3 separate regions of the Homo sapiens genome follow, and all the other regions are linked to region 3. Evidence: fine-mapped QTL for protein levels in blood plasma. A gene starts in region 3. Each other region holds a variant in brackets. All regions are shown on one strand. Distances are from middle to middle. Region 1 overlaps HPCAL1 (hippocalcin like 1). Region 2 holds the start of LOC124907732 (a long non-coding RNA gene). Region 3 holds the start of HPCAL1 (hippocalcin like 1).

The links. PIP is the chance, under the fine-mapping model, that this variant and not a neighbour inherited with it causes the effect. Protein levels are from antibody-based Olink assays in UK Biobank. Linkage for the fine-mapping came from a reference panel and not from the study's own genotypes, which makes the PIPs less certain.
Region 1: its variant is fine-mapped to the plasma level of the HPCAL1 protein (UK Biobank, PIP 0.93).
Region 2: its variant is fine-mapped to the plasma level of the HPCAL1 protein (UK Biobank, PIP above 0.99).

Annotation. Positions count from the first base shown.
Region 1 is chr2:10,395,514-10,405,606 of GRCh38, forward strand. HPCAL1 (hippocalcin like 1) reads left to right here. Exons shown (of 5, transcript NM_002149.4): 2 at 1,322-1,407. Among named protein-coding and RNA genes, the nearest start is that of SNORA80B, 46 kb to the right of the region's middle. The variant T/TAC (reference allele first, on the strand shown) is at 5,259.
Region 2 is chr2:10,429,482-10,439,574 of GRCh38, forward strand. It overlaps LOC124907732 (a long non-coding RNA gene), which reads right to left and starts at 3,332. Exons shown (of 2, transcript XR_007086214.1): 1 at 3,217-3,332; 2 at 2,105-2,376. RefSeq lists enhancers at 3,138-4,103, 4,104-5,068, 5,713-5,762 and a silencer at 3,384-3,443. The variant T/C (reference allele first, on the strand shown) is at 5,589.
Region 3 is chr2:10,297,321-10,307,413 of GRCh38, forward strand. It overlaps HPCAL1 (hippocalcin like 1), which reads left to right and starts at 5,584. Exons shown (of 5, transcript NM_002149.4): 1 at 5,584-5,857. It overlaps LOC101929691 (a long non-coding RNA gene), which reads right to left and starts at 5,397. Exons shown (of 4, transcript XR_922791.3): 1 at 4,258-5,397; 2 at 3,522-3,693. RefSeq lists a cis regulatory region at 492-1,104, enhancers at 603-897, 6,159-6,218 and silencers at 5,119-5,898, 5,783-5,980, 6,299-6,478.

The DNA.
Region 1 (10,093 bases), 98 kb after region 3:
TGCAGGAGCGAGGGGAGCCCCGCTGGCACGCCGCACTGTGCTGAGGCTGGGTGTTCTAGGGTGAACAAGCCACTTCGTCTAGTGGGTGCTTGTAAAGCGGGATCGTTGCTATGAGAGAGAGAACCTTGCGTTGGGAGAAAGTAATTAGGGAGTGTGCGGTAGATGCGGAAGAGAAACGGGCCGTCAGGTGAAGTGACTGTCAGGATTCCATCCTGGCTCGGCCCCTTGGAAGACACATGATCTTGCAGGTAATTAGCTCCTGTAAGCCTCCATTTTTCCCCGTCTGTCAAATGGGGATGATGATTGTGCCTGCCTCCCAGGGCTGCTGTGTGGATTACGTTGGATAATGAGTACAAATGCATAGACAGCCTTTAGCAAGGAGCCTGGTTGTATAGAGCTGTCGGCCTCAACACTGTTAATACACATATGTACCAGAGGCTGCAGGTTCACGGAGGAGGAGTCACCAATCCATGCCCGGGGAGCAGGCAGAGAAGAGGGAGGCGGGCCCGTCCCGAGTTCACGCCACGTGAAAGGTGCTTGGAACGCTTGTGCCAGAGCTGGCAGTGAGGGTTGAGGGTGGGAGTGGCCGAGCACCTAGACACCCGCAATGCAAATTTTCCTTCTCAGTCTCTGGATGGTTTTCTGAGCTGAGCTGCGGGCTGAATGTCAGGTGATGCGTCCTGACCTCTTCCTGAGCACCTAGTGTGTGCCCTGTGCTGGGCCCAGGAGGCATGCTGGGGGCAATGTGGGCCTCAAGGAGGAGGTCGGGTGATGAGGGGCCAACCCAGGTATGCCAGTCAAGAAACCGTGGAGGCTGGAGAGACCCTGAAGGGAGCAGGGCACAGTCGTGGGTGGCAGGCCTGGGTGTGCCTGATTCCACTGAACCCTCGTAACAGCCCTGGGTGCAGAGTGTAGAGTGCTGGGTGAGGACGGAGGCTGTGCGTCTGTGATGGCCCCAGGTGACAATGCTGTTGGGATTTGAACCTGAGTTTGTGGACCACAGAGGTCCCGGCCACACTTAGTTTCCATGCCAGTTTTGTAGTAACCAGCAACCTCACTCGAAGGGTGGCCAGCATCTTACCTTGGGGCTTCTATCAACGTTGTCCTGGGCTTCTCGCCTGCTGGGGTGCAGCGGCCTTGGGCATGTGCCCCTGTCCATGGTGGCTGGCCGGAGGCCGGGAGCCAGGGCTTTCTGTATGTAGCATGGCACTTGCAAAAACTGTGATCCCCCAGCAGGCACCACAGAAGCAACCAGAGGGAGGGGCATGGGCTCCGGGCCGGGTCGTCACAGCCTGCGTGACCTGTCGCTCTTCTCTTCCAGGGGCATGGTCTAGTGGCCCAGTCAGGACGCGGAAACACTCCCTGGAGGTTCTGACCCACTCCCTCTCAGCCTCCGCCTGGTCTCTGGTAAGTCACTCCCAGAGGCCGACTGGCTCAGGGTGGGTGAGGACTGAGGATGGAAGTGGGTGGCTCCTGCTGTGCCGTGGGGTCCTGCCCATGTGTGGGGACTGGACCCAGCTCAGCAGAAAGAGCAGGGAAGACTGGGCGTGGGGGGCAGCCCAGCTAGCACCCCTAGACAGGTCAGGAAACTGCGGCTCGGAAATGCAGAGAAACAGCCCCCCAGGCCCCACAGCCATCTCAGCTCTCGCCCTAAGCTGGCCAGGTCTTTCTGGGTAAATCGCGTGACCTTCGGTGCTTCTGTTTGGCGATTTGTCAGGGGAATGAGGGGCCCAGAACTTTGAGAAGGACGTGTGGGTGAGGGCAAGGAGGGCACTGTCTTAGTGTCCGGGTTTCTTTGTCTTCTATCCCCTGCAGCCCCTGTACCTGGAAGCTTCCTTCTCCCAGGCTCCTGTGCATGGTCAGGGCCACTCAGCCCTCTGGACCCCCACCCACGCCAGATAAGCTGTCTGCGCTGGGAGCTGGGCATGTGGCTCTCCCCTCAGAGCAGTTACCGTAGGCTGCCGGGCCCAGGGTCTGTCTGAATCCGCCACCCTGCAGCCCCCCAGGCCCCTGCCTGCTCTGGGTGCGAGGAAGGCTTGAGGGAGGGCAAAGTGCTTACAGCTTGAATGCACCACCCTGGCCTGGCCACTGGTCGCCTCTCCCCCAGTGTTAGCCTGGCTTAGGGGCTTTTTCCATCCGGAATCCTTCCTGGCCCTGCCTGAGCTAACTCCGTGAGCTCGGGAGGGCTCCTCATGACCCTGGTCATCCTGCCAGCTCCCGAGACAGGAAGGCCTGGCCATGTCCCGGGGCTGCCCTCGGGTCTGGAGAGCCTGCCAGCCATGCTGTGGGGCTGCCCTTCCAGCGTTGAGGGTTTGGTTTTGTTTGTAAGCAAGGAACCAGGTATGCGATGCTGGAGAGTGTGTAATTCTGGCTGTGCCTCTTCACAGCCCCTTCCAATCTCGTGCATATTAAGGTTGATAAAAACACCCTCTTCAGGGTCAATGCGAGATCAGACCTGGAGTGAAGTGTCCCTGTGGTATCTGGACCAGCAGGACCTGGCTGCCCCACAGCTCCTCCTCTCTCTCCCTCCTCCCTCTCATGGTCTCATGACTATTATGGTGACTCTTGTCACTCACCACCCTGCCCCACCTGCTCCTGCATACTGTGAGCATCAGTTGGGGCCATGGATGTAGCAAGGGTCAGCTGTCATAGGCTCCCGGGGGGACACCTGGGGGAGGGACATTTGGGGACAGAGCCCCATCTGGCCATGCCCAGCCCCTGAGAGCCCTCATCACCGACTTGCATCTGGTGAGTTTGGCAGGGTCCTGTATAAGGATTAAAGTCCTCCAAGTCCTCATACAAAGTCGCTTTCCAAAAGTCTGGAATTTTCTTGGCCCTAGACACGGGAGATGCTCTTTATAATTTTCATCTTCCCACTCAGAAGGAACCACCTTTGAATACTCAGCCAGGCTAAAATTTGGACCCAAAACCTGTTAAAGCATCACTGTCTTAATTTCAGTGTTCATGATGGGGTTCTGGGCTGTGTGAGGGGTGGAGGGCAGATACCAGTGGCAGGTTTCATCTGTGGCCCTGGTAGATGTGAGTCCCGCAGCCGGTCAGCCCAGGGCCCAGGGCAGACCCCGGGCGTGGCTGCTTTCCCGCTGGGCACCAACGCACGCACGTGGTGTTTCCAGGGCAAAGTGAGCTCCCCACCCTCTGCCCGTCCCCTGCCCCGCCCTTAGATCTGCATCCCGTGGGTGGGGTGGGTTTTCCTGCCTTCCTCTTCCTGAGGGAGGCGATTTCTCCTTCCGCTTTCTCCTTGCCACAGTAGCTGCTGGGTTGGGAGGAGACATCCAGGCTGGGGCCTCAGCCTCAGGGTGCCAGTTAGCGTGTGGTTAGCTGAGAAAAAAGTATTTTTCTCAGCAGAAAATAGACACAACTGCATGTGAAGGGGCCACTTCCACTCCTTCATTCTCCATCCACCAGCCTTACTGGAGCTAGAGAGTGGGGGAACATCTGGGTCCGTGTTACCTGGATGTCACCTGCATACAAATGTCCTGGCCCGAGGCCACTGTCAGCACGGGTGCACAGGGGAGGCGCCTGGCCCGGCAGGTCGTGCTGAGGCTGATACCCGTGTCAAGAAGCTGGAGCAGGCGAAGAGATCAGAAGAGGGTAGAGGAGGTGGTCCGAGGTGTCCATTCCCATCCCCAGACCCCTGGGGCATTTCAGTGCACGCACAGCAAATAATATCACTGCACCACCACCACCACCACCACCACCACCACCATCACCACCACCACCACCACCATCACCACCACCACCACCATCACCACCACCACCACCATCACCACCACCACCACCACCACCACCATCACCACCACCACCACCACCACCACCATCACCACCACTACCATCATCACCACCACCACCACCACCACCACCATCACCACCACCACCACCACCACCACCATCACCACCACCACCACCATCACCATCACCACCACCACCACCATCACCATCATCACCACCATCACCGCCACCATCACCATCACCACCACCGCCGCCACCACCGCCACTGCCACCGCCACCATCACCGCCACCACTACCGCCACCGCCACCACCACCGCCACCGCCACCGCCACCACCACCACCACGAGTTGAGGGACTCTGGGATCAGAAGGCACTTTCCAGCACATTCACACCATTGGCCGTGGATGTTGTGGGTCAGGTGATGGGCACTGGAAGGGCCTTCCGCTTCTCTCTGCCCCTGGCCCTTGGTCATGTACAGCAGGCCGCTCCCCGGGCAGTGGAGAAGCAGCACCTGCATACTAAGGCTCGAGTCCCAGCCTCCCCTACCAGCCTCCCTCTCCACGTCCCCAGACACTCATGCGTTCCTTCCCTTGAGGTGGGTTCATGGAGCACGTACCCTGTGTCAGACAAGCTTCCAGGCTCTGGGCTTCTGATGGAGAACAGACCAGAGTAAACCTGGCCCCAAGGACCTTGAGCTCCACTCAAGGGGAGACAGACAGTGAACTCAACAAAACAGAAATGAGAGAAAGGATCAAGCTGGAAAGGGGATAAAGAATGAGTGTCGGTTTTGGATAGAGTGCTTGGGGAAGGCCTTCCTGAGATGAGACCTGACCAAAGGCCTGCAGGAGGTCAGGGACGGGCGTGCTTCTAGCTAAGGAGCAGCTGGTGCAAAGGGCCTGTGGCAGACGTGCACCCGTGGCAAGGAGGGGGCGAGCAGGCGGCTCAGCCAGGTCGGAGTGGGTCACACCTGAGGGGCAGGACGCTGGCAACCCCGACCGCTGAGGAAGACAGGTGCGAGCAGCATCTCGGCACAGCCAGACCCCCACCATACGGCAGCCCTCTGTGTCCCTTAAATAAGGATGCCTCCTCCCAGGCTTAAGAGATCATTGTTGCTCATAGTGATTTGTGTAGCCAACAATTCTTCTGGAAGAAGTTAGATGAACAGGGCCATGGAGATTTGGGGCCGGAAGAGCAGGACCCCAGGCTTGCCTCCCCTCTAGTGCTGGCCAGGCCGTGGATCCCAGGCGGGCATCTCAGAGAGCCATCTGAGCGGCCTTTCTGGAAGTGCCCTCCTAGGCAGACGCTGGTCATGAGGCAGGGCAGCGGGGAAGGGACAATCCTCCTGTGTTGTACATTGAGGGTTATATTTAGGGTGACTTGGGATGACTTGGCAGTATCACTTCCTGTGGTCGTCCCCTCCAGCCCTCAGCCACGGAGGGCAGATCCTGTCTGACAAGCATTGTGGGCAGACACGTGCCTGCACACACGTACACACCCACATGCACACA[T/TAC]ACACACACGCACACACATACACACATTGTGGGCAGGCACAACTTGGCATTCTCATCTGCCCTGGAATTGGTGGAGGGCTGGGGACATTGTCCTGGCCCTTCTGCAGGACCGCCAGGTGCCTGGCGGGGGAATCCTAGCCGTCAGCATCTCCGGAGCATCTGCTCCATGTCGGGCTCTGTGTGAAGGGCTGCATCCAGATCCCACATGAGCAAGACCGGCCTAGCCTCCCCATCTGGTTGGGAGATGCCAGGCAGAGGTGGAAGGAAGGGCGGCTGACCTGCCCCTTAGTCTGCTCAGCCACACAGGCAGCCACAGCCGAGGCTGCACAAGGACACTCCCCTGACCTTGCTGCCTGCTGGCCCCGGGTCTCCAGGCCAGGTCCGAGCCAGCCAGGCTCCTCCCCACCCATGTCACCGGCCTCTCTAGGTGGAGTCCACAGTGATCTTTGCTCCCCTTCCCCAGGCATCCAGCACCACACCAGGCACAGGGCCTGGTATTTCTGGGACAGCCCAGATTACACGTTTTCTCTCAGTTACCCCCTAGAATATTCTTGGACTTCTCAGACCCCATGTGCAAATTTTTAGCTTAGAAGTAATCACTGGGATCATAGACGATGTTTAGCAAATATCTGTTCTTTTGGGTGTTCCTAGGCCCCCAGAGGGTCTCCGGGAAACTGGCTCTTTTGCTGAGGCTAGAGACTATCTGGGCTAGAATGTGTCTGATGGGGCTCTCGGAGGGTGCACAGACAGTGCCGCGGTGGCCGAAGATCCACTATTCCAAGGCCGGATCTGCAGAGGATTTGGAAGTTGTCTGTAAGGAGCGCCTAGATCACCCGGACCTTCTCTCTCCCTCCTTGACTTCCTTCCTGCCTCTCGTCAAACAATTACTGTGTGCTTCCTGTGTTCTAGGCGCTGTGCTAATAATTGGTTATGGGATTATTCCTAGCCACACCCTGGGTAAATGGAACCCAGCTCTCTGTCCTTGGGAAAAGGGTCAGGAGAGAACTGGGGCCCAGCTGGGAAGCTGGAGGCTTGAGGCTGCTGGTCCATGTTGGAATGCTGTCTCCCTCTGCCATCCAGCACCCAAGCCCGGCGCCAGGCTCAGAGCAGGAACTGAAGCTTTTGCTGTTGTTGTTGTTTTTGTTTTTTGAGACAGTCTCGCTGTGTCTCCCAGGCTGGAGTGCAGTGGTGTGATCTCAGCTCACTGCAAGCTCCGCCTCCTGGGTTCAAGCGATTCTCTGCCTCAGCCTCCTGAGTAGCTGGGATTACAGGCGCGCACCACCACGCCCGGCTAATTTTTGTATTTTGAGTAGAGACGGGGTTTCACCATCTTGGCCAGGCTGGTCTTGAACTCCTGACCTCAGGTAATCTGCCCGCCTCGGCCTCCCAAAGTGCTGGGATTGCAGGCATGAGTCACCGCACCCGGCCAGGAACTGAACCTTGGTAGGAGAAGGAAAGAAGGAGTTCCTGTCTTGCTTTCCCGACCAGACTGGAAGCGCTCTGAGGGCGTTTTACACTTCGGTGTCTTCCCAGCACTTAGCATTGTGGCCTGCATGTAAGGGGTGTTCCGTGACTGCGTGTTGATTACACTTTGTGTGTATGGGTGGGTGCGTTGCCACAACTCTCCCTGCAGAATCTGTGGCCTCTGGTGCTGTGATTTAAAGACTAAAGATGGCAAAGAGTGGCTTTTATGAGCTGCCCCACTCCTGATTATAAACACACTCTCTATGAGTCAGAGGCCTGGGTGATCATGGATAAGTCACTTGCCAACAGTTAACTCCAGACTGTAGCTGCTGGGGCCACCGAGGGCGGCTGGAACATCACCATTCTGTGCCTAGCGTTTCAGCCGGGCTGAGGCCATTTTATTAATAATGATTTATTGTTTTTATTGCTTCCCAGAGATATTAAACATGAATCAAATAATGCATGTGATGATTCACTGGAGGTTCCCTTCCAAATTTAAAAAAGAATTAAAGAAAAAGTTTTTGACGGGTGTGCTGGTGTGGACACCAGGCAGGCACCTGAGAGCCCTCCCACCTTGAGCTCAGCCGTGGGCAGCACAGCACAGGGTGGACCTTGCCCTGCAGACAGAGCCATGCAGCCTGCGCAAAACCCCAGGGAGGACGCGCGTCTCACAAACACCTCTTCAGTCTAACATTTACAATGGTATTTCTTACAAATGGTTTCCACCCGAGATATATTACAATGTGGCCAAACCCCATTCATTTGGGACACATAAATTCAAAATTTGGAAATAGTTCCTTTGGGGCTCATGAACTGATCAAGTTTAGTCATTTCTCAAGCAGGGACCTGGCAGAAATGTTGCTTTTTACCATCTACTAAGACAAGAGCTAGGCAGCTGGTTCTGCTGAACAAGGTCCCGGGGAGAGGGACACCAGTCCTGGCTCAGTGAGCAGCTCCTCAGGTGCTTTGGAAGCCTCCTCTGGGGATAGACTCAAAGAAGTTTTCTATTTATTTATTTATTTTTCTTTATTTTTAAATGTTTTTCTCAAGGATGTTTTTTAGAGCTAGCTCATACCTCAGGGGCCACACTGTCCAAACACATATTGGACCCTGATGAGGAAAGTGAGAGCCGTCAGGGTGTGTGACATAGCCACTGTCACCCAGGCCTCCAGCTCCATTCTGCAGTTGAAAATGATGCCCTCATAACAAAGAGTTCTTTTGTGTGTGTGTGTGTGTGTGTGTGTGTGTGTGTGTGTGTGTGTGTGTGTGACGGAGTCTTGCTCTGTCACCCAGGCTGGAGTGCAGTAGTGTGATCTTGTCTCGCTGCAACCTCCGCCTCCCAGGTTCAAATGAGTCTCCTGCCTCAGCCTCCTGAGTAGCTGGATTACAGGTGCCTGCCATCATGCCTGGCTAATTTTTGTATTTTTAGTAGTGATGGGGTTTTACCATGTTGGCCAGGCTGGTCTTGAACTCCTGACTTCAGGTGATCCGCCCACCTCACCCTCCCAAAGTGCTGGGATTACAGGTGTGAGCCACCGAGTCCGGCCAACAAAGAGTTCTTATCCGTTCATTACAAACGCCCACTCTTTCCAGTCCTTACCTGATCAAGAATTCAGAGGCAATTTTTCAGGTATTTTTTTGACTCGGACTTTACAAATTTGAACTACCATTCAAGTAATTGGTCTGAATTCCTAAGTTTCGATGGTATTTTTCTCTTCCTTCTTCTGGCTGCCTCTCCTCCCCATACCCTGCATTTGTTAATGTACCCATTTGTTCCATATTCTGTTTGTTCTTTATTGCTCTATACACTGCTCCATAATGTTCTCTATCATTTGTCCATTCATTACCCATGAAGGTACATGCAGAGGTCACCAGCCCAGAGGTTTGTAGCAGGGACAAGTTACTTGCTGGTGGTGGTCTCCCCAAAAGTTTGGGCCTGCGAGTCATTGACACCTACACACTTTGAAAACACCCCAGGATGAAGTCTGGGACTGGAAGGAGCTCCCACCTTAGCCAGACTCTGGCCTCCTCCCCAGCTGTGTCCCCGCCAGCCCTTCTCCAGCCATGCCCTTTTGCCTCCCAGCACACTGAGGATTCCTCCTGGAATGCCCCTCACCCCGTCTTTGCTGGGTGAGTGTTTCCCCAGCCCCGCTGAGCTCAGGTATCAGCCCCAGCGCTCTGGGTAAGTCTGGGACCATCTCCTACATTGTCTGCAAAATCCTGCAGAAAGCCTGGCCTGTGCTGGTCAGCAGGATGCTGCGTTTCCTTTTAAACAGACCCAAAGCAGTCAGCAGCCACAGACTCCCCAGAGACGGAGATGAGAGGAGGGACCTCATGCCCTGAGGCAGCCCCAGCCTCACTCCCATGCCCTGCAGGCGCTGAGCAGCCCCCAGATCCCGGGCTCCTTTGCTGCCCCAGGGTCGGGCAGTTCTTGCATCTTGGACCGAGTGGGCTCTGCCCTGCTGTGGCATGACTGGGCTTCTTCTGTCCTTTTTCTTTATTTTCTCTTTGAAGAACAGGAGTTGGAATTTCACTCACCCTGCCCCAGCTGGATGTGTCTAGGCCACCGTGGTCCCAGGCTCTCTGCCCAGCTGGGCCTCAGGACCAGGTTTTAATGCCGCTGCTTGGGTGTGCCGAGCGAGAAGGGCTCGCCAGGCAGTGCAGAGATTCCACCGAGCCCAGGCCGCAGCCCCCACCTCCCGCCGGGCTGTGCTCAGTGTCAGGAATCGGCTCCCAAGATGGCCGCCTTTCTTGTAAAGCTGTGCCAATACCCCAGGCATCTGACTGGTGCTTTCCAGCTGGCACTCCTTTTACAGATTCCATTTCCCTTTATCCTCACAACTGCTCAGTAGAACCTGCAGGCAGGGACCCTTATTCCCATTTTACAGTCAAGGAAAATAAGGCCCAGAGAAGTTGAGACAGCCAGGACCATATGGCTGGAGACGGGGCAGGCTGGGCAGAGCCCCCAGCAGGGCCCCTGGGTCTGCGGGCTGCTCCCAGCAGCACCCCTCATATACACACCCTCATCCTGACTGCAGGCCCCTGAAGCTGGCATTCTGGTTCAATTTTACAGAGGAGCAAACAGGCTGGGTCTGGAGCGTTGACACTGGCAACTCTAGCCCAGCCTTGCCTGACTCCAGGGCATGGCTCCAAGACCCTGGAAGAGCTGCCTGTCCCTCCATGGCCCCTCCAGGGCGTGCTGGGTGCTGGCAGGGCAGGCTGAGGCACTCGACAGCAGAGTTGGCCCCGTAGTCTCAGTTTTGCTCCCGCTAGGGTGAAACACGGTTCCCTGGGGAAGGGCTGTTGCTCACCTCTTGGCCTGGAACATCAGGGTGGAATTTGCAGACGGAATTCTGCCATCTGACGCGTAG
Region 2 (10,093 bases), 130 kb after region 3:
GGGTGGATGGGTCCCTAGGTGGATCGGTTGATGGATGAATGGGTGGCTGGATGGATGGATGGATGGGTGGATGGATGGTTGGGTGGGTGGGTGGATGGATGGATGGGTGGATGGGTGGGTGAATGGTTGGGTGGGTGGGTGGATGCATGCATGGGTGGGTGGGTGGGTGGGTGGATGGATGGATGGATGGATGGGTGAATGGTTGGGTGGGTGGGTAGATGCATGGATGGGTTGGTGGGTGGGTGGCTGGATGGATGGGTGGATGGGTGGGCAGGTGGGTGGATGTATGTATGTATGGATGGGTGGGTGATTGGTTGGATGGGAGGGTGGATGCATGGATGGGTGGGCGGGTGGGTGGATGGATGGATGGATGGATGGATGGATGGATGGATGAATGGGTAGGCGAATGGATGGTTAGATAGATGTATTTATCATAAGGAATTGGCTTATACGTGATTATGGAGGCTGAGAGGTCCCAAGGAGACAAGCAGCCCTGTCCCCTGTAGACAGAGGTCAGCAAGCTGGGGACCCAGGAGAGCTAATGGTGTAGTTCCAGTCTGAATCTTAAGGGAGGAGGAGGCCAATGTCCCAGCTCAAGACTGTGAGGCAAAGAACAAATTCTCAGGCTTTTGTCCTATTCAGGCCTTCAGCTGAGTGGATGAGGACCCCCACATTGGGGAGGGGGATCTGCTTTACCCCACCTGGTTCCCCCATTGGTCACCAGTTCCAATGTCAAATTCATCCAAAAGCACCCTCACAGGCACACCCAAAATAATCGGTTTGCCCAAATGTCTGGGTACCCCCTGGCCCAGTCATGTTGACACATAAAATTAACCATTATAACCACCTCTGCTCAGATATGGAGGAGGTAGATATGGGGATCCTAGTGGACCCTGCCCTACAAGGAGCTCACAGAAGCCAGTATGATTTGTCCAGGAGTCCAGTGCTCTCTGGGAAGGCAGGGAATTGAACCCCAAAGATGGTGTCCCTGTGCCAAGAAGCCCAGCCTATCAGAGGAGGAAAGAACCCAGAAGTGAACCCAAAACTGTCGTCCATGCCACCCACCCAGCAGGAGGCCTCCTCAGTCTCTTCCTTTGTCCGGGATCAGGATCTTTCAGGGCGGGTTGTTAGAAAGTGTCTCGGCTGGGTGCGGTGGCTCACGCCTGTAATCACAGCACTTTGGGAGGCCAAAGCGGGTGGATCATGAGGTCAGGAAATCGAGACCATTCTGGCTAACACGGTGAAACCCCGTCTCTACTAAAAATATAAAAAATTAGCCGGGCATGGTGGTGGGCGCCTGTAGTCCCAGCTACTCAGGAGGCTGAGGCAGGAGAATGGCGTAAACCCAGAAGTCGGAGGTTGCAGTGAGCCGAGACGGTGCCACTGCACTGTAGCCTGGGTGACAGAGACTCTGTCTCAAAAAAAAAAAAAAAAAGAAAGAAAGTGTCTCCACCTGTCCTTCCCTGGTAATTTGCAGTACTGGCCCTGGGCCTGCTTCCTCTTCCTCCAACCACCTCCTTCTGCAAGCTTCTCTCTTGTCCTGCCTTCTCCTTGCCCCAGGGGATCCCAGACCCTTTGCCATCCTGCACGGGCACTCCAAGTTGTTAAAGTTCCTTGGGAGTTGCATACAAGTGTCCCTTATCCTATAGACAGATAGAAGATCTAATCATGTACCTGCATAAGCAAGGCTTATGTGGGTGGACTCAACAGAAACTCTGGAAAATGGCTCCGGTGGCTCCATGGTCCCATCCACCAGCTGTCCTGACACTCACTGCATGGTGTCCCATGCTCACTGAGTAAATACAGGGTAATGGGAACAACTCCTGAGACAGGAAAATGTTTAGACTCGAAGGAAGGAAGCCCTGGAGTGTGGAGGGAAGGGTGGCAGTATGAGGTGTTAGTCCCAAGACAGTTCATCTAGTCAGGCCACGATGAACCCCTAGTAGGGCAAGACTGTCACCTCCCTTACTCTGAACCTTAGGCCTTAATTAATACAGCCCCAGGCATTTTCTGCTTGGGTAGACTGGCCTCCCGCGTGGGAACCAGCATTGAGCTAGCAAAACATTAGCTCCCATTTATCAAGGGTTTCCACGTACAGACACTGTTTAAAACTTTAAACGTCTAATTTAACCCTCCCATCAACCCTGCAATGTGGTATCACTACCACATTATACAGATTGATAATGCTGGTTTAAGAGAAGTTAAGTAACTAGCCTGAAATCCTTAGCAAGAGGTGGCAGAATCAGGAATTGAAAGAAGGATCAGCTCCCAAGTCCGAGGTGCGTCTTCTCCCGATTCCAGAAAGGTCTTCCAGTAGCTGGGCTGGAGCCGGGTCCATGTTTCCTTGCCAGCGGCCTCCTTCAGGGCCCCTGGTGTCTAGAGAAATGAAGGAGTTTCTCCCTGGGTCCCTGAACAAGACTTAAACGCACTGTATTTGTGGCACCCAGGCCTGACTCCCTCCCCACCCCGTGCCAGGTCACGCCCTAGTGGAGAAGGGGGCGCGCCTCCCCACCACTGCCTGAGGGGCGCCCTCCTGAGCGCCCGTTTCTCAGGGCGGGGCACTGGACTCCGAATGGAACCCTCCCCTCCTTGCCGGGCTTAGGCAGGTACGTCATTAGATCTTCTATCTGCCTCTTGAGATCAGGGGTGCGCATGAGCAGGGACCCAAAACGGGGGTCCAGTTAGGATCACAGCCCCCCAAGAGGAGACAGAACCCACAGGACCTTCAGGCTTCTGAGAGGGACCTCGTGGGCCCCGGAAAAGGTATTTAGAAAAACAGGAGTTCGGCCTTGGGTTCATCCGTGGCGTGGCCTTCCCCCAGCCGCCTTGCCCTGGGCTGGGCGCCGTTGGGAATCAAACCCACACGCCTGGGGAGCTGCCAGCCAGCGGGAGCCTCGGCCGTCGGGGAACAGACTCCGGCTTGGGGCAGCCTGGCAGCCCTGAAAGGAACAAGAAGAAAATGGAGCTGTGGGGCAGGGGCGGGGCTCGGCTCGAGAGGCAAGTGGTCCCGCGCTAGTCCCACCTGTCACCAGCCACCCAGTCCTGCCGCTCTGACCCCGCCACTGCGGCGCAGGGGCCTGGTGCCCGCTGGTCCTGGGCTCCGGCTCCGGGTCGGCAGCGATGTATCCCGGCCCAGAGTGGGGCGGGGTAGGGCAGGGCCAAGGTCAGTTTCCTTTAAGCTGGGCACGCCCTCTCCTTGGCTTGGGGCTCCCTTACTGTGGCCTGGGAAGAGGTCTCAGAGGAGAAGGGGTGATGCTGGAGACACGGTGGCGAAGGAGCACTGCGGCCTGGGCCCCGGGGGGCAGCTGTTTATCCAGCAAACACCTCCCCAGGGCCAGCGCGGGGCATGGCACAGCAGGGCACTGCCGGGGCGCAGGAGCTGCGGGGGCGGGTACAGCCTGCCTGGGGCAGGAGGCTGGGGAGGGTGGGAGGGAGCTCGGGAGGAGGGGTGACTGAGGCCAGCGGGGGCGGGCGGGGCGGCAGCCCCTGGAGGGCCCCTGGAAGGCCTCAGCTCCTCCGGCTCTTCCCAGCGGGCTGTGTGACTGTACCATGGGGCCCCGACCTGAAGGGGCCACCTGCCTCCTGCAGTTCACGGGAAGGCAGACCCTGGCCCGCCCTGGAGCCACCTGCCCACGGCCTCTTCCAGCTGCAGCCAGGCCCTCCGGGCTCGAGCGGGCTCATCCACTAGGTGTGTGTGTGTGCGTCTGTGTGTTGTCTTGGGTGTGTGTGTGGCTGGGGCATGTGGTCTTAGTGTGTGCTGTGGATGTGTGTGGTGTGTTTGGGTGTGTGGGAATGGTGTGGGGATGGTGTGACTTTGTGTGTGATGTCGAGGTGTGTGGTGTGTTTGCATGTGTGGTGGTGTGTGGGCATGGTGTGACCGTGTGTGCGATGTGTATGTGTGTGGTATGTTTGCGTGTGTGGTGGTGTGTGGGGCATGGTGTGACTTTGTGTGATGTGGATGTGTGTGGTGTATTTGCGTGTGTAGTGGTGTGTGAGGGATGGTGTGACTGTGTGTGTGCTGTGGATGTGTGTGGTATGTTTGCGTGTGTGGTGGTGTGTGGGGCATGGTGTAACTATGTGTACATGTGTGTGTTGTGGATGCATGTGTGTCTGTGTGTGTCATGGTGTGTGGGGCATGGTGTAACTGTGTATGCTGTGGATGTGTGTGGTGGTGTGTGCTGTGTGTGAGTGGCATTGCGTGTGCTGTGAATGTGTGTGGTGGTGTGTACTGTACTGTGTGTGTGTGTGTGTGTGTGTGTGTGGCATTGCGTGTGCTGTGGTGGACCCGAGTCCACAGGTGGGTGGCTTCTGGAGTGCCACATGAGGCTGTTGAGTGGCAGCCCTGACAGCTCATTCCAGGAGGGCCAGGTGGGGTGCCTGTCTCCGTGGCCTGAGAGGCTGGGCCTGGGCTCTGGGCACCCTGCTCCCCTTCCTGGCCCACCTGGGCCCACAGTGGCCTCCCTCCACACTGAGCTTCCCTGCACCAGGCCTGTCCTAGGCCTCCATGTCCCCTCCTCCAGAGGTCGCCTTCGGTGACCTCATCAAATTACTCTGGTCGTCTCCACCCTGAAGCCCTGCGAGGCTGCTCAGGAATGAGTGGGGATGAATGAATGAAGGGAGGGTCAGCAGGTGGCTCTGCTCTGTCTTCACGCAGCTGGAACCGCATGAGCTTATGCCCTGGACACACACTGAGACCCAGGCCAAGTCCCAGCTCCACCTCGAATGAGCCGCCTGGCACTGGACAAGCGCTGTGTCTTCATCTGTAAACCATGTGGTCAGGGAACCAGGGGCAGAGGGAGGGGCTGCAGGGCCTTGAGGGGAATGGCAAGGGTCCTCAGGGGCAGGACCTGACCTCCAGGTTCCTGGGGACCTCCGAAGGTGGGGGCCCCAGGGTTAGGGTCAGGCACCCTGGCAGGGATGGCAGAGCATGGGAGCCATGTGTGCGGGTGTCTTGTGGGGTGTGTGTGAGGCTGGGGCATGTGGTCTTAGTGTGCGCTGTGGATGTGTGTGGTGTGTTTGCATGTGTGGTAGTGTGTGGGGGATGGGGAGGGCGGCACAGGCAGCCTCAGGTGGGCTCTGCCTCTGGCTCAGGGACAGGTGCCAGGCACCAGCCCCACAGGAGGGGTGGCGGGGGGAGATCTGCCCTCCGCCCACTCAGCCTATCATGGGGGGTGGTCAGGGGAGGCCGGGTGGGGTCACCAGTCGCTGGTGGGCACAGGGGAGGATTGGGAACACCTCAGAGGGGATTGGGGCCACTTCGGGGACGGGCAGGGGGACAGGCAGGACCAAGGCTGCAGGGCCCCACCAGCTGTACACAGGGCTGGTTCTACAACATGGGGCAGGGGTGCAGGGGCTGGGCTGGGGGCTTCACCTGGGGGGCCTCAGGAAGTGTTTTGGGGGTCAGGGGAGTGGTCTGGTCGGGGACTGGGCTGCCTGGTGCCCCTTCCTCAAAGCCCCCGGGACCCTGGAGTGGCTGAGTCGGGAGCTCTGGATCGAGGCCACGCTCCAGTCTCACAGCCCTGTGGCTGTCAAGGGCCCCCTGCGATAGTGGAGCTATCAGTGTTTGCCCAGTGGTCGAGTGATTTGAC[T/C]GCCTTTTCCTGGCCCCGACCGCGCTGCCACCGCGGGGTGCTGCTGCCCCCTGGTGTCCATAGCTAGGAGGGCCATCCAGGGCTTGGGTGTGCGGGTTCCAGCTGGGCCTGCTTTCGAGAAAAGCTTTCTGTCCTGGGCGGCATTTGATGACAGAGGAGGATGCTGAGGCCCAGAGGAGCCCCTGACTTGTGGTGGGCCAAACGGCACACAAAAGCTGAGGCCAGGCTCCCGGTACCCAGGACCAGAGGCCTTATTGCCAGATAGGAATGCCAGATACAATACAGGGCACCCAGTTACACTTGAATTTCAGATCAACGAGAAGCAATTTTGCAGCTGACATATGTCCCGTGCAGTATCTTATCTTTGTGCTAAGTCTGGCAACCCTCCTTGAGAAGCCAGGGAGTGGGGCCTGCACAGCCCTGGGGCGGGTGAGAAGCTGGAAGGGCCAGGCCTTCTGACAGGCACCCCCAGGGCCAGGTGCATGACCCTCCTGGCGGAACCACCCAGGCCCAGACTGACCCTCGCCCAGCAGGGCACCAGGTCTCCTCCCCTGCGGAGCCACCCCCGAGCTGGCCCAGCCTGGAGACCCCCGCTCCCCAGCTCACAAGCTCACGGGCCTGAGCTCCACAAGTCACCTGACTGAGCTCCACCTAGGTAACCCCTGGCCAGTGGCAGAGCACGCCTGGTCACAGCCCTCTCCAGCCTGGAGTCAGTGCTGCATGTGGATAAAATTCTCCGAACTCCCAACAGCAGCAAGAATTCCGGAGGCGCTTCCACTCTGTGCCCTGCATTCGGGCCTTCACCAATCCTCCCTTGTAGCTGCCCTGCCGTGGGTGGGGGGCACCAGCTCAACCCCCACTCAGAAGGAGGCGGCCGTGGGGACCCCTGTGCCTAGTGAGGCATAGGGCCTGGGTCTGGCTAGTGCCTAGTGAGGTGTGGGGCCTGGGTCCAGCTTCGTCTGTCCAGCTCCAGCCGAAGCTGAAGCCACAGCAGGAATGCAGGGCCAGGTGCCACCGTCTGTGGTATTCCGGAGCCATGGGTGCTCGGGGCTGCCTCTGCCACCCTGGCAGGGAATAGGATTGGCAGAGAGCAGGGGCCGGGAACACGTTGCCCTTGGTGAGAGAAGGATGCCGCATTCTAGTCATGGTCATTGTTCAGCAAGAGCCCAGGAGCAGAAGCTGGCTGGCGAGGCAGGGCCCTGAGGACACCCAGGCCCTCCTTCTAACTTACAGACTCGCCTTGGACGAGTCACTTGGCCTCTCTGGGCTTCATCCCATCTGTAAAAAACAAGAACTGGGAGAACTCTGCAAAGCCTTTGCTTCACATGACGTCCTACCTTGAAACCCGATGGGTGAGATTGGGTGAGGCGGAGAAGGCAGAGCCCCCCACTTGCCCCCCTCACCCCCAGGCACTGAGGCTTCTCGGGAATCCCTGGTGGGGACAGAGCCCGATTTGAAATGGGTCGACTCTTGCCTTCAGGGGCAGTTTTCCAGCCGGGCCCAGAGATGGTGCAAAGCAAACCCCCAGATCCAGCATGGGGGAGGGCCCATGTCAAAGAGGGTACAGGGTGACAGCCAGAAAACCCCCTAAGCGGAAGGGGCTAGCCAGCCACTTCGAGTCACTTAGGAAAATCTAGTAAGGAGGGAACCTGCGAAGAGATGTGTGGTCCCAGTAGCAGAGGTCACTGCTGGGGTGTGACGAGCACATGACTTCACAAGACAAGCCGAGTGAGGCCCGGGAAGGGGCAGGCCCTACCCACGAGAAAGTGCAAAGTGGGCATCAGCCAGGGCTCAAGAGGGCCGCAGGGGGCACACGTGGCTTGCTCTGCCCACCGGCTTCTGGCCTGCCCTTGGTTGCTGCAGGCTATCTGTGAGGGGCAGTGCCTGGCCCTGACACTGTCGGGGAGGGAGGGGTTGACCACCTGCTGATGTGCCAGGAATGTTCCCATCTTTGGCTTCTGATGGGTCTGCTGCCTTCGTCGGCCTCATGAGCTGGGTTGGCATGAGCCAGCCCTCCTGGACCCTGCAAAGGTGAGGACCAGGTCGTGAGCAACTCTACCATGTCCCCCTGAGCCAGTCCACTGCCCAAGCCACCCTCCAGCTGCTTAACAGCATGTTCCCAGGGTAGGGAAACACCGAATGAATGCTGGGGTCCTCTGACCTGGCTTGAATGCTGCCTCACTATCTGCGTGACTTGAGTTCATCTCTGAGTTTATGTCTTCACGCGGGAAACCTATTTTACAATCCTCGTAAAGTCAGTAATACATTCCAATATCAAAAGCGCAGTGTGGAGCCAGTCCCCACTCTCGGCCCAGGCCTCTGGTTCTTCTGCCTAGAGGCAACCTCTGTTACCCGTTTCTTACAAGCTCTTCCAGAAATATGCCATGCATATGCAAGTATGTATGTACACACACAGTTTGTTGGGGTTTGATTTTGCTTTTTACACACACAGTAGCATACTACACGTGCCCCTTGCTTTGCTATCCTCACTGAATCTAGCTTGGAGCTTGTTCCTTATCAGTACTGATGAATCTGCTTCATTCCTTAACCACTGTATATCCCGTTCCATTGACAATTTCATCAGTACCTGCTTGTGTACAAGAGATTGTTTACAAATGATGCCACAATGAATAATTTTAGAAGAGTATCATCAGAGAAATTCTTAGAACTGCTGGGTCAAAGATAATGTGGATTATTGATATTATCAAGTTCCCTCCAAAGAGACTGTTGCTCTAATTTACTTTTCCGCCCAGTGCTTGAGCACACCTGCTCACCCCGCGAGCTGGGGAACTCTTGTCTTTGCCAATCTGATAGGTGAGAAATAGATTCTCATAGTTTTACTGTGTGTTTCCTTTGGTTGACAAATGTCTTCATGTTCAAAAAGTTTACTGTTGGCTGGGCGTGGTGGCTCATGCTTATAATCCCTGCACTTTGGGAGGCAGAGACGGGTGGATCACTTGAGACCAGGAGTTCAAGGCCAGCCTGGCCAACATGGTGAAACCGTCTCTACTACAAATACAAAAATTAGCCCGGTGTGGTGGCATGCACCTGTAGTCCTAGCTACTCAGGGGGCTGAGGCAGAAGAATCGTTTGAACCCGGGAGACAGAGGTTACAGTGAGCTGAGATGGTGCCACTGCATTCCAGCCTGGGTGAGAGTGAGACTCTGCCTACCAAAAAAAAAAAAACTTTACTGTGAGCCAAGTTTATGCCTTGCCCACTTTCTATTGCATAGTTACTTTATTGATTTGTTGTTTTTAATATGAAGAAAATTAGTCCTTTTCACGGGCATTGTAGCCGTTGGTCCCTTGCCTTTTGACTTTGTTTCCAGTAGGTTTATGGTCTAATCTGTTATATTTAAAACTTTCATCTATCTGGAATGTATTTTGGAGCAGGAGTTGGGGATACTTTTATGTCTTCCAGATGGTTCTCCAGTTGCTCCAACACTACTCCATCCCCAGAGTCTGGGGAAAGTGGTCAGGGGGCAATAATGAGTATTTTTAAGAAGCACCCTAAGTGATTCTAATGCACTCTGGCTGCCTTTACCTTTGCCCAATAGTTCAATTCCCCTGAATCCCCTCTCCCGGGGGCCAGCACGCCAGGAAGAAATTCACAAGTGGTCTTGGTGGAGCTGTATTCACTTCAAGTCACGAGTCTAGAAATGCCCAGTATCTGTGCACGACCAGACAGCACCATCTTTAAAAATGACGTGGAGATACCCAAATGCAAAGCAGGACTTAAGCCTCCTGGAGGACGGTGCCTGGTGTCGACACAGCCCCGGCTACCGTCTGGCTGTCCTCGTTCTCTGGTCTCTCCTGCCAAATTCGCCTGCCTGCTCCCATGTACAAGGGCCAAGGAAGATCACTTGATCAAGCCTGGCCACATCATTTCACAGACCCAAGTCTGGCTTTGTTGGGGCCTGTAAGTGGCTACGCCAAGCTGTGGTCAGAAGCGAGGTTTCAGGGGCCACTCACGTGTAGCACGGGATTACCTGCGGCTGTTTCTGTCCCCACTGGCACTACTGACCGTTGTTGGATTACATTTTCCCTAACTGGCTGAAAGAGCATTGTTTCCAAAGCCTTAGTTGATTTTGAGTGGAATACCCCCCTTTTCAGTCCAAGCTCACCACTGCCACTAAGCGATCTCGGGAATTTCTTCCTTTTTAAGATGGAAGACCTAATTTACCAAGATTCTAGGCTTGGTGTCTAGCTCAAATTTCTTGGCACACAGTACATACTCAGTGCCAACTCTCTTAACATAGTGGGTCCCGGATCCCAGGGAACTGCCCTTGTTGGGGAGCTCAGAGTTACCCAAACACACCAGCATCCTACTTCTCAGGCTCCCGGAAGGTAGGGCTGTGGACTACAGCACTCCTTCCCGCCCTCCCCCTCCAGTCAGAACCAACCTCTGGCTCCTGAAAAAATCTTTCATGTTTTGGCAACCCTGGCCCAGGGAGACCAGAGTTGGTGATAAGCCAAGCCCTGAGCTAACTCGGCAGCCACATGAG
Region 3 (10,093 bases):
TCGGTGAGTGGACAGTGCAGTTCTGGAGCCCTCCCCTGGCAAGTCCCGCTCCGGCCCATACCCCGCCCTGTTCCCCAGCAGCCACGGTCGGGTAGAGGGGTCAGGGAAGCAGGGCAAGAGGGTAAGGCACTGCTCAAGAAACAAAACCAGGTCCTTAACGTCCCTAGTCCTGCCGGGCAGTGTCCCAGGACCCCGGCCTTGAGATTAGAGAGAGGCAGAGGGCATACGGAATGGGAAATAGAAGAAAATGTACCAGGACATGCTTCCTGTCTTATGCTTAGACTGCCATGACGAAATACCACAGACTGGGTGGCTTCAACAACAGAAAGTTATTTCTCAGAGTTCCGAAGGCTGGAAGTTCAAGATCAAGGCACTGCTGGCTGATTCCTTTTCTGGTAAGGGCCCACTTTCTGGCTTGTAGACAGTCACCTTTGTGCTGTGTTCTCGCATGGCCTTTCCTTGGTGCATGGAGAGGGAGAAAGATTTTTCTCTCTTCCTTTCTAAGACCACCAATCCTATGACTTACAACTCCTTTAACGTTAAGTACCTCCTAAAAGTCCTATCTCCAAATACAATTACATTAGAGGTTAGGGCTTCAACAAAGGAATTGGGGTGGTGGTGGTCCACAGCAGGGGAGGGGATATTTTAGTTTATCTTGAGCTTGCAAGGATGAAGGGGAAAGAGCGGGGGTGGGGGGGTGGCATCGGAACCTGCCTCTGAGTCACACTTCCTGGATGAGCCATGGGCCACAGCATCTGTATCAGGAGTGGTTACAAAACAGCGTGCCTCAGGGATAAACAAGCTGACCTAATGATCCAATTTTCCCAGCTCTGGTCCATCTACAGATTTGAGGCAGGATCCAGTGATTCTGCTGGCTGACTGGTCATGGTAAATTTCCAACTCTCCCCTTTCCAGGCACGGCTTTGGTTTCCTGCTGCAGCTGCTGCTGGGGAGTTATCAGGGCATTTCCTCCGCCTGTGAGCTCCTGGGGTCAGGGGAAGGTTGGGTGGCCAGAGATGCTGCCTCTACCCTAAGTCAGCGTCACCCATGCTATTCCCAGCAGCTGCATTTCTCCACTCTGTAATTACAAATGAAACTGGGGAATAGAATCAAAAGAGTACCTAGAAACAAGCTAGCCTCTACTTCCTCAAACATTCTGGGGCAGGAGTTTGTGCGCTGGAACAATGTTATTTGCAAGATTCTCCCTGGTGGATATACACTCAAGTATTAAAGTGCTACAAGGAATTAAAAAAAGAATAGTATTTCTTCCAGAGCCTGTGTGGGCCCAGCACAATGACACTGAATCTGGCTGTTAAACCTGGCTGTTGCTGATTCTAATATGTGGCCTTGGACATTTCATTTTTCCAAGTATAGCTTTCCTCATCTGTAAAATATGGAAACAATCTTTAGAATGTCGGAGATAGTGTATGTAAAGGTACTTCAGAAACAATAAAGTCCAAATCCCAATGACATTTTTTGCAGAAATAGAAAAACCCATCCTAAAATTCATATGGAATCTCAAGGGGCCCTGAACAGCCAAAACAATCTTGAAAAAGAACAAGGCTGGAGGACTCACACTTCCTGATTTCAAAACTTACCACAAAGCTACAGTAATCAAAACAGTGTGGCACTGGAATAAAGCTTGACATATAGATCAATAGAATAGAATAGAGAGCCCAGAAACAAACCCTTGAATATATGGTCAAATGATTTTTGGCAAGGGTGCCATGATCACTTAATGGCAAAAGGACAGCTTTTTCAACAAATGGTGCTGGGAAAACTGGATATCTACATGCAAAAGAATGAAGCTGGACCCTTACCTAACACCATATACAAAAATTAACTCAAAATAGATCAAAGACCTAAAAGTAACCTAAAACTATAGAATTTTTAGAAGAAAACTTGGAGCAAAATCTCCACAATGTTGGATTTGGCAGTGATTTCTTGGATATGACATTAAAGACACAGACAACACAGAAAAATAGACAAATTGGATTTCATAAAAATTTGGTGCATCAAAAAGCAAAATCGGGCTGGTGCGGTGTCTCACGCCTGTAATCCCAGCACTTTGGGAGGCTGCGGTGGGAAGATCACTTGAGGTCAGGAGTTGGAGGCCAGCCTGGCCAACATGGTGAAACCCCGTCTCTACTAAAAATACAAAAATTAGCCAGACCTGGTGGCGCACGCCTGTAGTTCCACCTACTCGGGAGGCTGAGGCAGGAGAATGGCGTGAACCCACGAGGCAGAGCTTGCAGTGAGCCGAGATCACACCACTGCACTCCAGCCTGGGTGACAGAGCAAGACTCCGTCTCAAAAACAACAACAACAACAACAACAACAACAACAACAACAACAACAACAAAGTGCTGGCGGTGAGGATGTGAAGAAATTGGAACCCTGTGCACTGTTTGGCAGAATGTAGAATGGTACACTGTGGAAAGTATTATTATGATGCTTCTTCAAAAAATTAAAAATAGAATGACCACATAATCCAGCAATTCCACTTCTGGGTATATACCCAAAACAACTGAAAATAAGATCTTGAAAAGATATTTGTGCACCCATGTTCGTCGCAGCATTATTCATAATTGCTAAAATGTGGATGCAACCCAATGATTTCTTGACAAACGAGTGGGTAAACACAATGTGGTATACACACACATGGAAATATTACTCAGCCTTAAAAAGGAAGGAAATTTGGACATACACTACATCATAGATGAATCTTGAGGACATTATGCTAAGTGAAATAATCCAGTTGCAAAAAGGAAATACTGTATGATTCCACTTATGTAAGGTATTAGAGAGGTAGTCATTATTTAATGGGTATAGAGTTTCAGTTTTACAAGATGAAAAGAGTTCTGGAGATGGATGGTGGTGCTGGTTGCACATCATTAATGTATTTAATACCACTGAGCTGTTCACTTTAAAAGGATTAAGATGATAAATTTTATGTTATGTGTATATTATAATAAAAGTTAGAAAAAAATTGTCATAAAACTAAGTCAGATATTAAGAACAATCAGAATTACTTCTGTCTTGTTTACAGTCATCATATGAAAAACAAATTGTTTATCTAGCATGACACCTGTTATGGGTTGAATTGTTTCCCTCAAAAGATGCTGAACTTCTAACCCTTGGTACCTGTGAATGTGACCTTATTTGGAAATTGGGTCTGCACAGATGATCAAGTTAAGATGAGGTCATTAGGGTGTGCCCTAATCCAATAATGACTGTGTCCTTATGAAAAGGGAAAAGAGACAGGTATATAGAGAAGATGTGAATTCACAGGGAGCGCACATGGCCATCCATAAGCCAAGGAATGCATGAGGTTACCAGAAGCTAAGAGACAGACATGAAACAAACTGCCCCCCACATCTCTCCAAAGGGGCCAGCCCTGCCAACACTTTGATCTTGGACTTCCAGCCTCCAGAGCTACAAAACAACACATTTCTGTTGTTTAAGTTGCCCAGTTGGAGGTGCTTGTTACATTAGCCCCAGGAAATTATACAACATCTTACCTGAATTTGCTTTCTTCTTTGCTCTAGTTAAATTCAAAACTACATATTGAATAACGACGGTGTGCTCTCTCTCCATGAAGCTTCGGGGTGGGTAGACAGTCCTCCTCTTGAAGGAACAGGAGGGACGCAAGGGAAGGGACCAACTTGTATCTCATCTGAGAGAGATACACTCCTGGAATAAGAGGTCTGCGGTTAAGTGTGTTTCTCTAGAAGTTCAGAAACAGAGGAAGCATCTGCGGGCTAAGCTGCTGAGGGCTAGGTGAGAGCTAACTGACCTAAGTTTTGAAGGATGGATGGGTGACAGGTTGGAGGGGGAAGATGGAAAAGTCACATGGGAGAGGAACAGCATGGGCCAAGTGTGGAGGAACCAGTGAGTGGGCTGGGTTTCAGAAACAGGCCTTGGTCTGCTTTTGAGCCCTCCCTGAACTTTTCCACCCCAACCCCACCTCCTGCCTGTGTCTGCCATGCACCTCCCTTCCTGTGAGTCTGTGGACAGACTTTGCCCCTTTGCCCTGTGTGTGCTTGGGAGAAATCTGCTCAGTTTCTGTGGCAGGGATGTTTCTACGTGTTCATCAAACCGGCTTTGTTTACTTCCGAAACACTCATGAAGACCACAGCTGCCAGAGCCCCTTGCATCCTGGTGGGACTGTGCGACTACTTCTGGCCCATGGATGTGGGTGGAAGTGACGTGTGCTTCCCCAGGCCTGGCTCCTGGACCCCACCGACGGCTTCTCACCTGTAACCCCACCAGCCTTCTACCTGGATACTTCACGGGGAGCTAGAGTGGCCTTGGCTAAGAAGGAGGCATGGCACCCGCGGGTACCGGGCCGCCTTCATCAGTCGGTGCACTCTGGTCCACCGCCCACATGCCTTCATGTAATCTTCACTGTAGGGCCCACAGGGAGGGGAACTTCCTCGAGGTCTAGCTTTGCCTTTCCGCCTTCAGAGCCAAGTAAGAATGAGGGGTCTGGGCTCGGCCCACCTTCCCTGCAAGGCCCTGTGCCCGCTCCCCTCAAAGCTGGTCTTGCATGTTGCTCTGGCGGCCTCTGTAGCAGGAGTTCACTCTGTTTTCCGTGGAGGAGGAGTGGAAGGAGGGATTCAAGCTCTCCCCTAGAGACGCTAGAAAGACAGTTTTGTCTCAGCCTCATACGATCGCCCAGCTCCACATTTCTGGCTGTTTCTGTGGTTACCTTTCTTCGGGGATGTTTGGGGCGGGAGGTGGGTGTGTGTGTATATTTGCTCTTCTGAAGCCGTTTTTCCGGAGCTCCTGGTGGGGGTGGGGGTGCTCTGTCCCTGGTTCCTCTCGAGGCAGGTGCAGGGGATGGAGGATGCCCCCCTCCCCGAGAGCCAGGAGGCGCCGACCCTGGGCAGGAGGTGCCAGACCGGCGCCTCTCCCGCGTGGAGCTCGAAGACCACAGATGCCTGGAAGGGAGGAGCACCTTCCGTGGTTAGGTGGGGAAACCGAGGCAGAGGCGGCCCAATGGACTCGCCTAAACGGCCTGGGGAGTCACTGCAGGTAACCAGAGCTGGAGCCAGGCTTCCCACTCCAGGCCCGGGGCTCTCCCCCGAACAGGCGTGGGAAGGGGTGCGAGCTGCACGCGGGGCTGGGGCTGGGGGTGCGGGGCTGGGGCAACTCGGCTCTTCCCCTTCCTAGGCCGCCCGGGCCACTTCCTGCGGCGTGGGGGCGGGGGGCGCGGGCGCAGGGCTGGCCCCTCCCGGGCGCCGCCTCTCGGCCTCTTCTATACCAGCAGGCCAGAGGCCAAGGGTTAGGGGAACAGAACCGGTGCCCGGCTCCGCCCCTGTCCCGAAAGCCACTGGGGGCTGGGACCCGGCAGGGCCAGGTTTGGGCCGCGAGGGCCGAGGAGCAGCGAGGTGCAGGGGCTGCGAGGGCCGAGCCGGGCGCTGAGGGTCCGGCAGGGGGCGTGGAGGGGGCGGGGCCCGGAGGGGGCGGGGCCGTAGGAAACTTGAGCGCCCGCCTCTGGCCGCGCGCCCCGCCCCGGCCCCCGCCTCCGGGTCCCGCCTCCAGGTCCCGCCTTCGCGTCCCTTCCTTCCCGGAGCTGGCAGGCGGGCCGCGGCGGCGGCGGGCAGCGGACGGGCGGACTGACGGGCGCCTCCACCTTGCTCCCTCCCTGGCTGCCGGCTTCCTTTTGTCTTTCTGGGCGGCGATGAGCGCAGGGCCGGCGCAGCAGCTGCGGGCGCACGGAGGCCCGCGCTGCTAGTCACTCCTCCCGGCCTCGGCGCGCTTGTCCCGGGCAGCGGCCCGGGCCCGCTGCAGCCGCCGCCGGCGCCGAACTTGGGCTCGGGAAGCCGGCGGACCGCGTCCTGCGCCGGAGCAGGTAGGGAAGGGGCGGGCTGCGGTCTGCTGGCTGCTGAAGTGTGCCCCGGGCGTGTGCACCCGGCGTGTGCACCGGCGAGCGCTGCGATCCGGCTCTTTGCGTGTGTGTTGTGCGCGCGTGTGTGTGTCCGGGAGTGCCCGCGTTTCTCTGCGCGGTGGAGTTGTGGGTGACTGCGGACGGTGGTGTGTCTTTCGAATGGCGTGTACTCGTGGGCATCCATGTGTGCCTTAGGTGTGCACATTTTGGACTGCGTTTGTGGAATTGTGTGTCGGGGCGCAGTTGCTGGTGGGGAGCGGTGCCTGGCGGGTGTCGTGTGTGAGCAGCTGTGCGCAGAGCGGGGTGGCGGGGTGGGTGTGGGTGGTCCAGCCCCACGCCCAGAGCCCCCTGTCCCTGCTGGTCGGCGCAGTGCGTAGCTTAGGAGCCTCGAGGACAGCTGGGACCCGACGGGCAAGGGCGGGCCTCGCGGGCAGGCTGGGCAGCCCTCAGGGAACAGGTCCGTGCGGCCCACGTGGGTCGCCTGTGAGCTTCTGCCAAGGGTGGGGGCCCACGCGGAGGCGATCCGCTCGTTCCTCCCAGGGCCATGGGGCGACGAGGAGAGCCCTGGCCTCCCCGCGACCCGCACTGCGACCTGGGCCAGACGCGCCACCTTCCCCGGTCGCGGTTTGCTTCTCTTTAAAATGAGGACAGCTCCTCCCTTGGGGGCTGTGGTGACAGGTGAAATGAGAACGCACTGAAGACAGCTCTTGGTCCAAAGCCCCGCACACAGTAGGTACTGTGTTAATTGGATTAGCGTCTCCTGTTTAAAATCCTTTTTTTTTCCCCTTTATCGTGGGTGGGGCCTTACATTTTCCCCGGGCGTGTTTTGTGCCTCTCCCTGGCCCTAACTTAACCGCGAAGCACTGAGATTCGAGAAAGTTTAGCTGCCAGCTGCGCTGCCTCCTGCAGCACCTCCCGGGCGGCGCCGCCTCCGCGAGTGCCCGAGAGCGCCGCGCTGGGCGCCGGCCCTGCCCCAGCCCCCAGGCTCCCGCGCAAGCGTGGGGGTCCCTCTCCTGGCCGGGAGGCAGCGACTGCGGAGTTGAGAACCCTTTGGTTCAACAAGTTCCTAGTCCGGGAGGATGCAGCTCAGCTCGTGGAGTCCGAGAGTCACGGCGTAAAATTGGCGCTTCCCGCACATGCAGATCTCGGGCTCCCGGGGTGTCCCGGCCGCCAAAGGCCACCCCTTTCCTCCTGGCTGACCCCAATTCCACCAGAGGAGGATGTTTGCCAGGGACGCCGAGTCCAGCTGCTGGCCTCGGCATTAGACAACCCCCAGCCCCAGCCCCTGCCATCCCTGCTCCCTTGCAGCCAGCCTCATGCCGGGGGTGCCACATGGGACACCTCCTCCTAGTCCCACACCTTAATTTAAAACATTTACTTTTGAAACCTACTAGTCGTAAAATTGAACCGCAGTGAACGAGCACCCAGCTCTTACCACGACTCACTCTCTGGAGAGTTCTGGCGCCTCGGCGCTGGCTCGGACGCAGCAAGGCCAGCTCTAGGGGTCGGGTGGCTCTCGGCCAGAGCGAAGGATATTCTTTCCCTTCATCGCCTTGGTGTCTTTCTCTGGGGGAAAAAAATCGCCTTTAACCAAGGGAGCCAAGATCTCACCAGTGCAGGAGGCTCTCAAAATGGAGCGCCGGCATGGGGTTGGGCTGCGGAGGGGACAGCATGGGCGGCCTTTTGGTATGGATGCGCTTCCCAACTGTCAGGGGCTACGTGATGGTGTTCCCAGAGAGGCGGGCTGCTTTGCGGGCTTTTAGGAGCCAGGGATAGAAACCTGGTCCGGTTCCTTTGGTTTCCCTCGGCCGAGACTGAAGCCCTGCAATCCTAGCCATGGCAGGCCAGGGGGATGCGATGAACTCATTTTCTCATTTTTCATCCTGACTTAGTGACAGGGGCACACTTAGAATGCACCCTGTTTTCTGTTTCATCAAATGATTTTATGTCCTACAAGAAAAAAGGGCTTTTGGTGTGAATCCTACTCTTTCCTCATAATCAGGTTCCATAATAATATTAAAAAAAAAATCAGTCTGGCTTTCTCAGCTCAGAAGACAGACCCAAACCCAGGTTTGTGTTTTGTTTTGTTTTTGTTTTTTTCTAGTTAAAGCCAGCCCTTTGTCTCAAGCAAGCCAGTGTTTTGGCCTTAGATCTATTTCTGTTTCACTTTTGAAAGTGCCTGTAATTACTGAGCTCTTGAGGTTTTATTGGATAATGTGGCAAAGGGAAGGCCCGGGGGCCCTGCCTCTCCCTTGCGGTGGGATGTGGTGCCACGGTGGCACATTCTAGCCTTGCCTGCTCCCTCTGCGTCCCACTTTCATGCTGTTTTTAAGGTGGAACAGAAATGTCAATGTGTGATAACAATTTGGGAGACTTTGTCTTTGGAATCCAATAAATGGAAGGTCCTTTGATCTGTGGAGAAACCAGAACAAGTCAAAACCCCAGAAGAACAGAGATTTGCCCAAACTCCAGCCAATGACCCATTTATTTCCAACAAGCCCTCCTAGAGATAGATTCTAAGTGAAATACAAGAACGTGGACACACTCCGTCCCCTTTCTGGCCACAGGGCTGTGCAGAATTAGAAGTGCAGTCTATGGAAGGACAAGGACTGGACTTCGCTTGGTGCAAACGCCCCAGCCAGGCGCCCCATACTCACCTAGCACCATTTCACCCTGGAGCTGTTTCCTCCTGTTGAAGCGCTGGTGCTCACACCCCCTACCTTCAGGGCTCTGCAAGCACAGTTCCAAGGTCTGCAGCGCGGGTACAGTGCATGCCCTGCTGAGTGTGCGTCAGAGCAGTTGTCTCCCTGTGACACTTATTCTAAGACCCTTTTTGCTACTCATAAGTGGTAGAGTACCACACTCACTCATGAACCAGTGATAATCCAGGGTACTAACGGGGGCCCCGGAGTTTATTTGGCACCGAAGATTAAGCTACTTGGCAGCTGAATTTTTATCTAGATTGGGGTTAGGTTTGTATTAAAATTTTGCATTCCAGCAAGCCCTAAACCGTGCTTGTTCATTGTGGGATAATGCGTTCAACTGATGAGTTGCCAGGCCAGGATTGATGGGGGATTATGTGTATTCTGCTAGTTTGTCAGCACCTGATGTCACTGTGCTGGGGGGTGGGGGAGGCATGTTTGGAGTTAGGATGAGCAGACACTTGTAGATTTTAATCACACTCTACTTTGGGGCTCCCTGCTCTCCTATGGTAGCAGGGGGTTTCTGTGTCGTTCTTATGTCCTCATGTAAAGCTGCACATCTGTGAATGTCAGGTAGCTCTTGTGCTTTTCCCCTTAGATTGAGTTTCTAATCTGGGAATGACAGAGGGTGGCTGTATATGGAGACAGCAGCATGGGCTTAGGGGCTCTTTTGGTGCCAGTTACCCTACGGAAAAAAGGTTTCTTCAAATCACTTTCTACAAAGACTAAAAAATGGTTGGAATCTAGTGGTGCAGATTGTAATATGACTTCAGGTAATCAATACGGTTTGACAGGTGGAACATTTCTTAGATGCTGATGAGCAGGGCGCAAGTCTCAAGATTTTTAAATCATCTGAAAAGCACAGTAAATCCTTTAAAGAGCCCTACCTTGGCCATGTTGTTTCAAGTAAAATTGAATTTCAGAGGCAAAGCTTCACATCGGAGGCATGACGAACTAAAGAAATCCTTCCCAGAGACCTCCACTCTCTTCCTGTTGCCACCCTCCTCTGCCAGCAGCAGGGCAGGAAAGATGACTTCTTGGGGCTGTGTGCCTTTACCTTAAGAAGCAAGTGCACCCTGAATGCTTCTAATCCCGCAGCTGGGTTGTCTGGGTATTTGGATCTTTTTGGTGCTTGAGGTACTACCCAAGTTGGCAGGAAGCCAGGAGCCTGGGGGTGGAGGTGTCTTAGCCCCACCTGTGGCATGAGACAAGAGGTCTTCTCCAGCAAGGGATGGGTCTCTGACCCTTGGCTAAGAAAACTCAGGATTGTTAAATACGTACTGCATGGATAAGGTTGCTGTGACCCTGAAAAAAGGAAGAAGGCTTTTGGGTGGTGCGTGGTTCTCCTCTTGGAAGTCTTCCCAGATTTCGCCTCAGTACTCTCTTGCCCTAGCTTAAATCTTTCCTTGCTCTGTGTCCCCTTAGGCAAGTGAGGTCTCCTCTCAGGTAGGCATGATATTAAGTGCATGTCTAGAGGACAGTTCCTTCTACCTGCCCA